Linked DNA regions of Homo sapiens: regions 1 and 3 are each linked to region 2. Evidence: fine-mapped expression QTL. A gene starts in region 2. Each other region holds a variant in brackets. All regions are shown on one strand. Distances are between the middles of the regions. Region 1 overlaps C1orf159 (chromosome 1 open reading frame 159). Region 2 holds the start of C1orf159 (chromosome 1 open reading frame 159). Region 3 overlaps C1orf159 (chromosome 1 open reading frame 159).

The links.
Region 1: its variant is fine-mapped to the expression of C1orf159 in whole blood (TOPMed, PIP above 0.99). The same link has a PIP of 0.9 or more in thyroid.
Region 3: its variant is fine-mapped to the expression of C1orf159 in whole blood (TOPMed, PIP above 0.99).

The regions. Positions count from the first base shown.
Region 1 is chr1:1,094,080-1,096,833 of GRCh38, reverse strand. The region is part of intron 1 of C1orf159 (chromosome 1 open reading frame 159); the gene reads left to right. Among named protein-coding and RNA genes, the nearest start is that of C1orf159, 21 kb to the left of the region's middle. The variant T/C (reference allele first, on the strand shown) is at 1,154.
Region 2 is chr1:1,114,932-1,117,685 of GRCh38, reverse strand. C1orf159 (chromosome 1 open reading frame 159) reads left to right here and starts at 1,597. Exons shown (of 10, transcript NM_017891.5): 1 at 1,597-1,626. RefSeq lists silencers at 927-976, 1,017-1,136, 1,307-1,906.
Region 3 is chr1:1,080,349-1,083,102 of GRCh38, reverse strand. C1orf159 (chromosome 1 open reading frame 159) reads left to right here. Exons shown (of 10, transcript NM_017891.5): 10 at 116-1,280. The coding sequence ends at 210. Among named protein-coding and RNA genes, the nearest start is that of RNF223, 7.4 kb to the right of the region's middle. RefSeq lists a silencer at 1,003-1,182 and enhancers at 1,200-1,901, 1,902-2,604. The variant T/C (reference allele first, on the strand shown) is at 1,267.

The DNA.
Region 1 (2,754 bases), 21 kb after region 2:
AGGATGGCCTGGGCCTGGGAGACTGAGGCTGTGGTGAGCTGAGGTCACACCACTTTGCTCCAGCCTGGGTGACAGAGTGAGGCCATGTCTCAAAATAATAGGAGACTATGATGAACAATTTTAGGCCAGTAAATGTAGCAATTTCAATGCAATGGATAAACTCTTGGAAGAATATAACTTGTCAAAAGCAATGGAAATCTGCATGGTCCTCTTTCTGTTCAGGAAATTGAATTAATTACCGGAGAACCTACCTACCAAGAAAACTCCTGCAAATATACATGGTTTCCTGGTGAATTCTATCAAACATTCAAAGAAGAAATCACAATATTCTTACACAAACTCTTTCAGAAAATAAAAGAGGAGGGGGAACGGGTGCTGTGGCTCCCACGTGTAATCCCAGCACTTTGGGAGGCTGAGGCAGGAGGATCACCTGAGGCCAGGAGTTCGAGACCAGCCTGGACAATATAGTGAGACCCTGTGTACAAAAAAAATTATACCTGTAGCCCCAGCTACTTGGGAGGCTGAGGTGGGAGGATCCCTTGATCCCAGGAGCTCAAGGCGGCAGTGAGCCATGATCGCACCACTACACTCCAGCCTGGCAACAGAGTGAGACCCTGTCTCTCTTTAAAAAAAGGAGGGCCTATTTCCCAGCTTGTTTTATGAGGCAATATAATCCAATACCAAAACCTGACAAAGACACCTAAAAAAAATTATAGACCACTATCCTTCATGAACACAGGCAAAAATCCTTACGAAGGTATTGGCAGGTGAAATCCAACAATAGCCTAAGAGGGCAGTACACCTCGGCCAAGTGTGGTTTATCCTAGTGATACAAGGTTGTTTTGATTCATAAATGAATCTTTGTCGTCACCATATTACTAGAATAAAGAAGGAAAGGATGATCACTGAAATAGATGCAGAAAAGACATTTGGAAACATTTATACCTGTTTTATGATTTTTTTAAAAAAACCTCAGTAAACTAAGAATAGAAGGAAACTCCCTGAGTCTGATAAATGAACATCTATGAAAAACCTACACTAGACGTTGTACTTTTGATGGCGAAATATTGAGCATTTTATCCCTAAAATCAAGAACAAGGATGACACCCATTCTCACTCTTCTGTCCAACATTATACTCAAAGTCCCAGCCAC[T/C]GCAATAAGGTAAGAAAAAAGGCAAATTGAAGTCACAAGGATTAGAAAGGAAGAAGTAAACTGTATTTATTTGTAGATGACATGATTATTTATGCAGAGGGTCCTAAGAAAGCTACAGAGAATTGCTAGAACTATTAAGTGAATTTAGCAAGATTTCAGATATCAAGGCTAAGGTGCAAAGTTTATCGTTATATAGTAGCAGCAAACTATCGGAACATGAAATCAGAAATTACATTCTATTTGTAATAACAAAAAGTAAAATCTTAGTAATTATCTTAACAAAAGATATACAAGACCTGTTCACTGAAAACTATAAACACTGCTGAGATAAATTGAAGAAGATGCGGAGGGATGAAGAGAGACAGCATGTCCGTGATGAAAAGACTCAATCCTGTTAAAACATCGGCTCTGCCAGTCAAAATCGCAGCAGGCTTTTTTGTAGGAATTGACACAATGAGTCTAAAATGGAAACACATGTGACCTGGAATTGCCAAAGCAATTAATCAAAGTGGAGCTGATACGTGCCCTGATTTCAAAGTTTCTATTCTACTTACAGCTTCAGTAATCCAGTCAGCCGCAGTGTCCCTGAAGAATAGACACACAGGTGAGTGGAACAGAATAGAAAGACTGGAAATAGACCCCACCTCTATAGTCCATTGATTTTCAATGAAGATGTCAACGTAATTCCACATGGAAAGAAAAGTCTTTTTAGCAACTGTTTATACATAAGGAAAGAAATGACGCTTGACCTGCATTTCACCATACACAAAGGTGACTCAGAATGCAAAAGCTAAAACTGTAACACTTCTGGAAGAAAGCAGTAAATCTTAGTGACCATGAGGTCAAGGCAGAGATTTCTTAGGACATAAAAAACAAGAACCACAAAAGGAAAAATGGATGCATTCAATTTTATTAAAAATTTCATTAAAATTAAAAACATTTGCTCTTCAAAAGATGTCCATAAAAAAATGATAAGACGGGGGCCGGGCAAGGTGGCTCATGCCTGTAATCCTAGCACTTTGGGAGGCCAAGGCAGGCGGATCACAAAGTCAGGAGATCGAGACCATCCTGGCCAACATGGTGCAACCCCGTCTCTACTAAAAATACAAAAAATTAGCCGGGCGTGGTGGCGGGCACCTGTAGTCCCAGCTACTCAGGAGGCTGAGGCAGGAGAATGGTGTGAACCCAGAAGGCGGGGCTTGCAGTGAACTGAGATCACGCCACTGCACTCCAGCCTGGGCGACAGAGACTCCAATTCAAAAAAAAAAAGATGATAAGACAAACCACAGGATGGAAGAAAATATTTGCAATACATAAGTCTGATGAAGAATATGTGTTTTAGCTGAGCGTGGTGGTGACGCACACCTCTAGTCTCAGCTACTCGAGAGGCTGAGGTAGGAGGATCACTTAAGCCCCGGAGGTCAACATGGCAGCATGCACCTGTAGTCTCAGCTACTCGGGAGGCTGATGTAGGAGTATCGCGTAAGCCCTGGAGGTCAAGGCTGCAGTGAGCCACGATCCCACTACTGCACTCCAGCCTGGGCAACAGAGTGAAACCCTATGCCCCCCACCCCTGCCAAAAAAAAAAAGGTATATGTTGC
Region 2 (2,754 bases):
AGAGCCTGTGGCACAGACTGGACTCCGAGAAGGGGACCGCGACTGTGTCCTCCCCGTGGTCCTCAAACGTCGCCCAGGCCAGGTTCCTCTTAATGGGACCGACACAGAAGCTGCACGTCCGCGGGCGCATGGCCGGAAACCCTGCAGCTGTCAGCGAACCCCTGGTGCTGGGCGCCCACGCCCAGGTGTCCCACGGCCAGACACTGGTGGCATCAACTCCTCCAGAGGCCCTGAGGGAACCCTGGGATGGACCCTCAGGCGAACACTGTCCCTCTAAAGAGAAGACACAAATGTGACTTCCCCAGCTGTCCCCAATACTGTTTACAAAACATCCTCACGCTGTTAAGATGGGGGCTTTATTTCCATTGAAATCTCTGGCATTTAAACTTGGGATGGAACCCGGAGGCGGCGTCCATCAAGGAGGAACAACCCCAAGGCGCATGCAGGACGGGCCTGGGAGCTCCCGGGAGCAAGGGAGCTGGGGGGTCTGGGGGCCTGGGAGGTTGGGGGGTCTGGGGGGTTGGGGGGTCTGAGGGGTTGGGGGTATATGGGGGGTTGGGGGATCTGGGGGTTTTGGGGGGTCTGAGGGGTTGGAAGGGTCTGCGGAGGTTGGGGGGGGCCGCGACACCTGCAGCGCCCCCCCACCCTGCGCGCTGGCCCAGCTAGGAGAGGGCCCGGGGACACCGACAGGATTGAAGCCTTTGATGAGCGGACGGACGTCCCCAGTTCCTTCGGGGAGCTCCTTTAAACATGTTTGCCGAAAGCTGCGGGCGCCGCGGGACGCACAGAGCTGTCTTTTCTCCGAGGGTGGCTCAGAGGCAGAGCCCCGGAAAAACCCACGCGCCCGGCCTGTGGGGCAGCGACGCCGCCCAGACCCCGGGGCCGCCGAGACTCACGGGGGAGCGTCCTGAGACCGCAGAGCCCTGACCCGTCCGAGAGGCGAAGCCCCGGGAGCCCTCTGGGTCCGAGCCGTCCCAGTCCCGCACCCAAGGCAGGGTCTCTCCCGCCGCGCTCCGACACCGGCCGCCGAGGTCCCAGCACTGGCGCCGGCCGCGGACCTGGGGCGCATTTGGCGGCGGCTCGCGAGGCGCTCGGGGCGCTCCGTGGGTCTGGAGGGCGCTGGCCCCGCGCGCCCGCGGCCAAACCTGGTGCAGCCGCGCCGCCTTCTCCGATGAAGCCGAAGCCGCCCCGGCCGCCCCCAAACGCTCCGCCTCCGCCTCCGCCTAAACCGGCGGAACGCTAAGGACGCCGACGCTTGTGCGGTCGCCCGGGAGACCCCGACGACGCCCCGCCCCGTCTCCCGGCAACGCCAAGCAGCCGGCGCGCGAGGAATCCGGGGGAATGTAGTCCCTCCGTGTCAGGGACCCGAGACATGCGCTGGTTCTTCTAGGACTACATTTCCCAGGGCGCTTCGCGCCCCGCCCCGGCGCCCCACCCACGGCCGCGCGCGATGGTACCACCAGGCGAGGGCGGCTCTCGCGCGGGCCGCCGGGAGTTGTAGTTTTCTTTGGGAGCTGCGGGGCCTGGCGCCGGGGCCGGGGCGGAAGAAAGACTACAAGTCCCAGGGGGCGCGGCGCCACCGCCTGAGGGCGGGGTGTACGAAAGAGAAACCCGGAGGGCGCCGGGGTGAGTGAGGGGCTGGGGGCAGGCGTGAGGGTAGCGGGTTGGGGCGCTGGGGTCCGTCTGGGCGGCCGGGTCGGCGCAGGGAGTGCGAGAGGCAGACAAAGGTCGGCGGCCCTGGCCCGGCCCGAGGGACGTTCCCTGCGCGTCCCCCATTGTGCGGCGCGCGGAGGAGCCGCCAGCGCCTGGGCCCGCGTCCTCGTCGCCGCCTCCCAACGAGCCTGGCCGCGGTCCTATGGGGGAAAGGCGCCCGGGCTGAGCGGGACGCCTGGGGAGGGGAAGGGGCGTCTGAGGAGGGCAGGGGGACCCCGGGGAGGGGTGGGGAGGGGGTCCCTAAGGAGGGGAGGGGGTTCCCGGAGCGGGGAGGGGGGGTCCCTGGGGAGGGGAAAGGTTCCCGGGGCAGGGAAGGGGGTCCCTGGGGAGGGGAGGGGGTCCCTGGGGAGGGAGGGGGGTCCCTGGGGAGGGGAAGGGTTCCCGGGGCAGGGAAGGGGGTCCCTGGGGAGGGGAGGGGGTCTCTGGGGGAGAGGGGGCACCTGGGGAGGGGAGGGGGTTCTCGGGGCAGGGAGGGGGTCCCTGGGGAGGGGATGGGACGGGCGCCCGGGGGAAGAAAGGGGGCGCGTTCGCCTCGCCTTCCCGGCAGCCGGGAGTGGGGGCACCGGCGCGGTCCCCGGTGTCCTAGAAGTCGGCCACGATTCAGGTCTTTTTCCCGCGAGGCTTTAGGATTTGTTTTTGTCCGTTTGTCACCTGGAGTAGCCGAGGGCTAGTCGGGGTGCAGTTTTTCGGGAGCGCGTGTTCCGGTGGCAGCGAGTCGATGATTGAGTTTGGGTGTAATTTAAGCCCAGGTGTTCGGGGGCATTTCTTACCGCGTTTCAAAGCAAACGCGGCTTCTTCCCCGGGAACTATTTTGTGGCTGAATTCTTAGCCGCCTCGTCCTGTTAAATTTCAGGATGTCAAACTTGGCCTCCTTTTTTTGGTTTTCATTTTTCTTAGTATTACCAGGGTGTGCAGAGAAGGCAGAGCTGCGTCTTCCTCTTTTATTTTTCCGTAAGTTACTGGGGTACAGGTGGTGTTTGGTTACTTGGTTACATGGGTAAGCTCTTTAGTGGTGATTTGTGAGATTTTGGTGCTCCCATC
Region 3 (2,754 bases), 35 kb after region 2:
CCCGGGCGCCTGTGCCATATGCCCACTCCCGAGAGCCTCCGGTGAGGGCTGAGGCCTGCACTGTCCCTGCTGTCCAGGTCCCACTCTGACCTCGCCTGTCTCTGACCCGTTTCAGTACGGAAGCCGCGCTACGTCAGGCGGGAGCGGCCCCTGGACAGGGCCACGGATCCCGCTGCCTTCCCGGGGGAGGCCCGTATCAGCAATGTCTGACCTGGAGGCCGAGACCACGCCACGCACTTGGCGGCAGGGACCCGGAGGCCGACCCCTTGGCGGGAACCAGCACAAAGTGTTGGCATCGCCCGGCGCCCGGGACAGTCCTGGGCACAGCCTCGGCTCTGAGTCCCTCCGCCTCCCAGCGACGGACGCCAAAGGGTCCCGGGCCGCCTGAGGCTCCTCCCCACCACAGCCATCTCGTTTATCGGACCAGGAGCAGGCATCCATGAGACCTCAGAGCTTCAGATCGAGGCCTTGGGGGGTCCGGGCCCCCCCAGGAAACACGGTGAGGCCCCAGCGCCTGCAGCCAAAGCTGGCACGATCTATGGGGCAGGTGCCGCTCTGCCTAGAAAAGCCAGGGGCTCTGCTGCCGTGCCCTCCAGAGCCCACAGCGGGCAGGACTCCTCCAGCACCACCACACCCAGTGGCCCGAGACCCCTCTGAGAACAGTGAGGCTGGTCCTCGTGCCGTTCCAGCCGGTGCCCGGCCAGTGGGGAGGACACAGCCTAGGAACCAGCTGCCTGAGACCAGGGTGCCTCTGGGCTGTCCTCCCGCGTGGCGGAGACCCCAAGCACGCAGCCACCCATTTCCGGAGCTGCAGGATAGAGCTTCCTCTTGATCTCTGTTTTTAAGCAGAAATTCATTGTGCAGAAAAGTCCTCCAGAGCTCTGTGGCCCCGCTCGGATCCGCTGGACCCCCATGCCTGGCTGATCCCTGCCCACGTGGGGCAGGCCCACATCTAACCCCCACAAGTCACTGCCTCACTGCACCTGCCAAGGCTGCCCTGGCGCTGAGTCCTGGGGTCCCTCCCGGAGTTCCTGGGAGAAAGGCGCCGTCGTGGCCGCCTCCCGCACGCCAGGCCCGGGCTCCACCGTGGGTCTCAGACGCCCTGCGGCACCGGCACCGTCTGCTTTAGCATGGGACCCCCCTCTGAGGGGTGGCCTGGCCTTCGGGGTCCCCACGCTCCTTTGCGAAGTCCACTGTGGGTGCCATCATGGTCTCCGGGACCTGGGCCAGCGGGAACGTGGGGGCACTGGGTGTGCTGATATAAAG[T/C]CGGCATTACTCAAGCTGCGTTCCGAGCTGCTCTCTCCCGTAGGATGCTCTGTTCTCTAAGTGCAGGTCGGGGAGCAAAGCCCCCGCCAGGCTGGCCCCACGCACTCCGCCACCGTGTGCTGGGGGCAAGGAGGTGGGACGGGGGTGGAGGAGAGTCCAGGTTGGGGCTGCCTGGTTGGGACCCCCCGCCCCGCGCCGCACATTTTCTGCCACAGGCCCATTCCCCAGATGCAACCTGTGCAGGTGGGACCTGTGGTCCCCGAACCCCCAGCTCGGAGTGAGGTGGGACAGAGTGTGGGTGTGCGTTTCCATCGGCCGGCCGGGCTGCGTGGGGGCTGCAGACACGGGCCCCGGGAGGGCTGCCATGGCCATCTGGGGGGGCAGCAGTGTGGGGGTGTTTGCTGACAGTGATGGGCCTGGCCAGAGAGGGCTGAGCTGGGGCAGGACAGGCCTTGAGGGCAGAGGGCCCGGGCACCAGGATGCCAGAGCGCGGGCCCTGCTCTCGTAACCGTGCCCTCCACCCAGGCAGAAACGTCCACTGCCTGGAGGGTCGTGTCCTTAGACACCTGCATCCCTGTCCCCAAAAACCCCCAGCCTGAGGTTTGCAGCCAGGGAGTATCTGGGGGAGCATTGGCTCTGCCCTGGGCCCTGGCCCAAGAAGTGTCCTGGGGCTGGGAGGGTCACTGGTCCTGGGGAGAAAGGGAGGGACTGGACAGCCCAAGGCCACTCTGAGCCCAGTACCCACCGCCCCACCTGATGCCCTGGGCCACGCCCCTGTGACGCGGGAGCCCCCAGACTCCTCCTGTGGGGAAGGAGACAGGGACCGAGATGGGAGCAGAGGGAAGGAGACAGGGACCGAGGTGGGGGCGGAGGGAAGGAGACAGGGACCGAGGTGGGGGCGGAGGGAAGGAGACAGGGACCGAGGTGGGGGCGGAGGGAAGGAGACAGGGACCGAGGTGGGGGCGGAGGGAAGGAGACAGGGACCGAGGTGGGGGCGGAGGGAAGGAGACAGGGACCGAGGTGGGGGCGGAGGGAAGGAGACAGGGACCGAGGTGGGGGCGGAGGGAAGGAGACAGGGACCGAGGTGGGGGCGGAGGGAAGGAGACAGGGACCGAGGTGGGGGCGGAGGGAAGGAGACAGGGACCGAGGTGGGGGCGGAGGGAAGGAGACAGGGACCGAGGTGGGGGTGGAGGGAAGGAGTCCACATCCCCCTGGAAACTCCACTCCTGCATTTGCACCAGGCTGGGCGTCTGGTTTGGAGGATAAAATCGGAAACAGGCACGAACAGCAGGTCCAGCCAGGCAGGGTCTGGAGGCCAGGCCAGACACAGACAGGCACCTCCCAGCCCACCCTCTGAGCAGCCCCCCAGGCCCCATCTCTCAATTCTGGGTCCCCTCCTCCTCCTCCCACCCAGTGGCCCAAACCAAAAACCCAGGGTCATCCTGACACCTCCACATATCCCCCTCAGCTGGCTCCCCACGTCCCCCA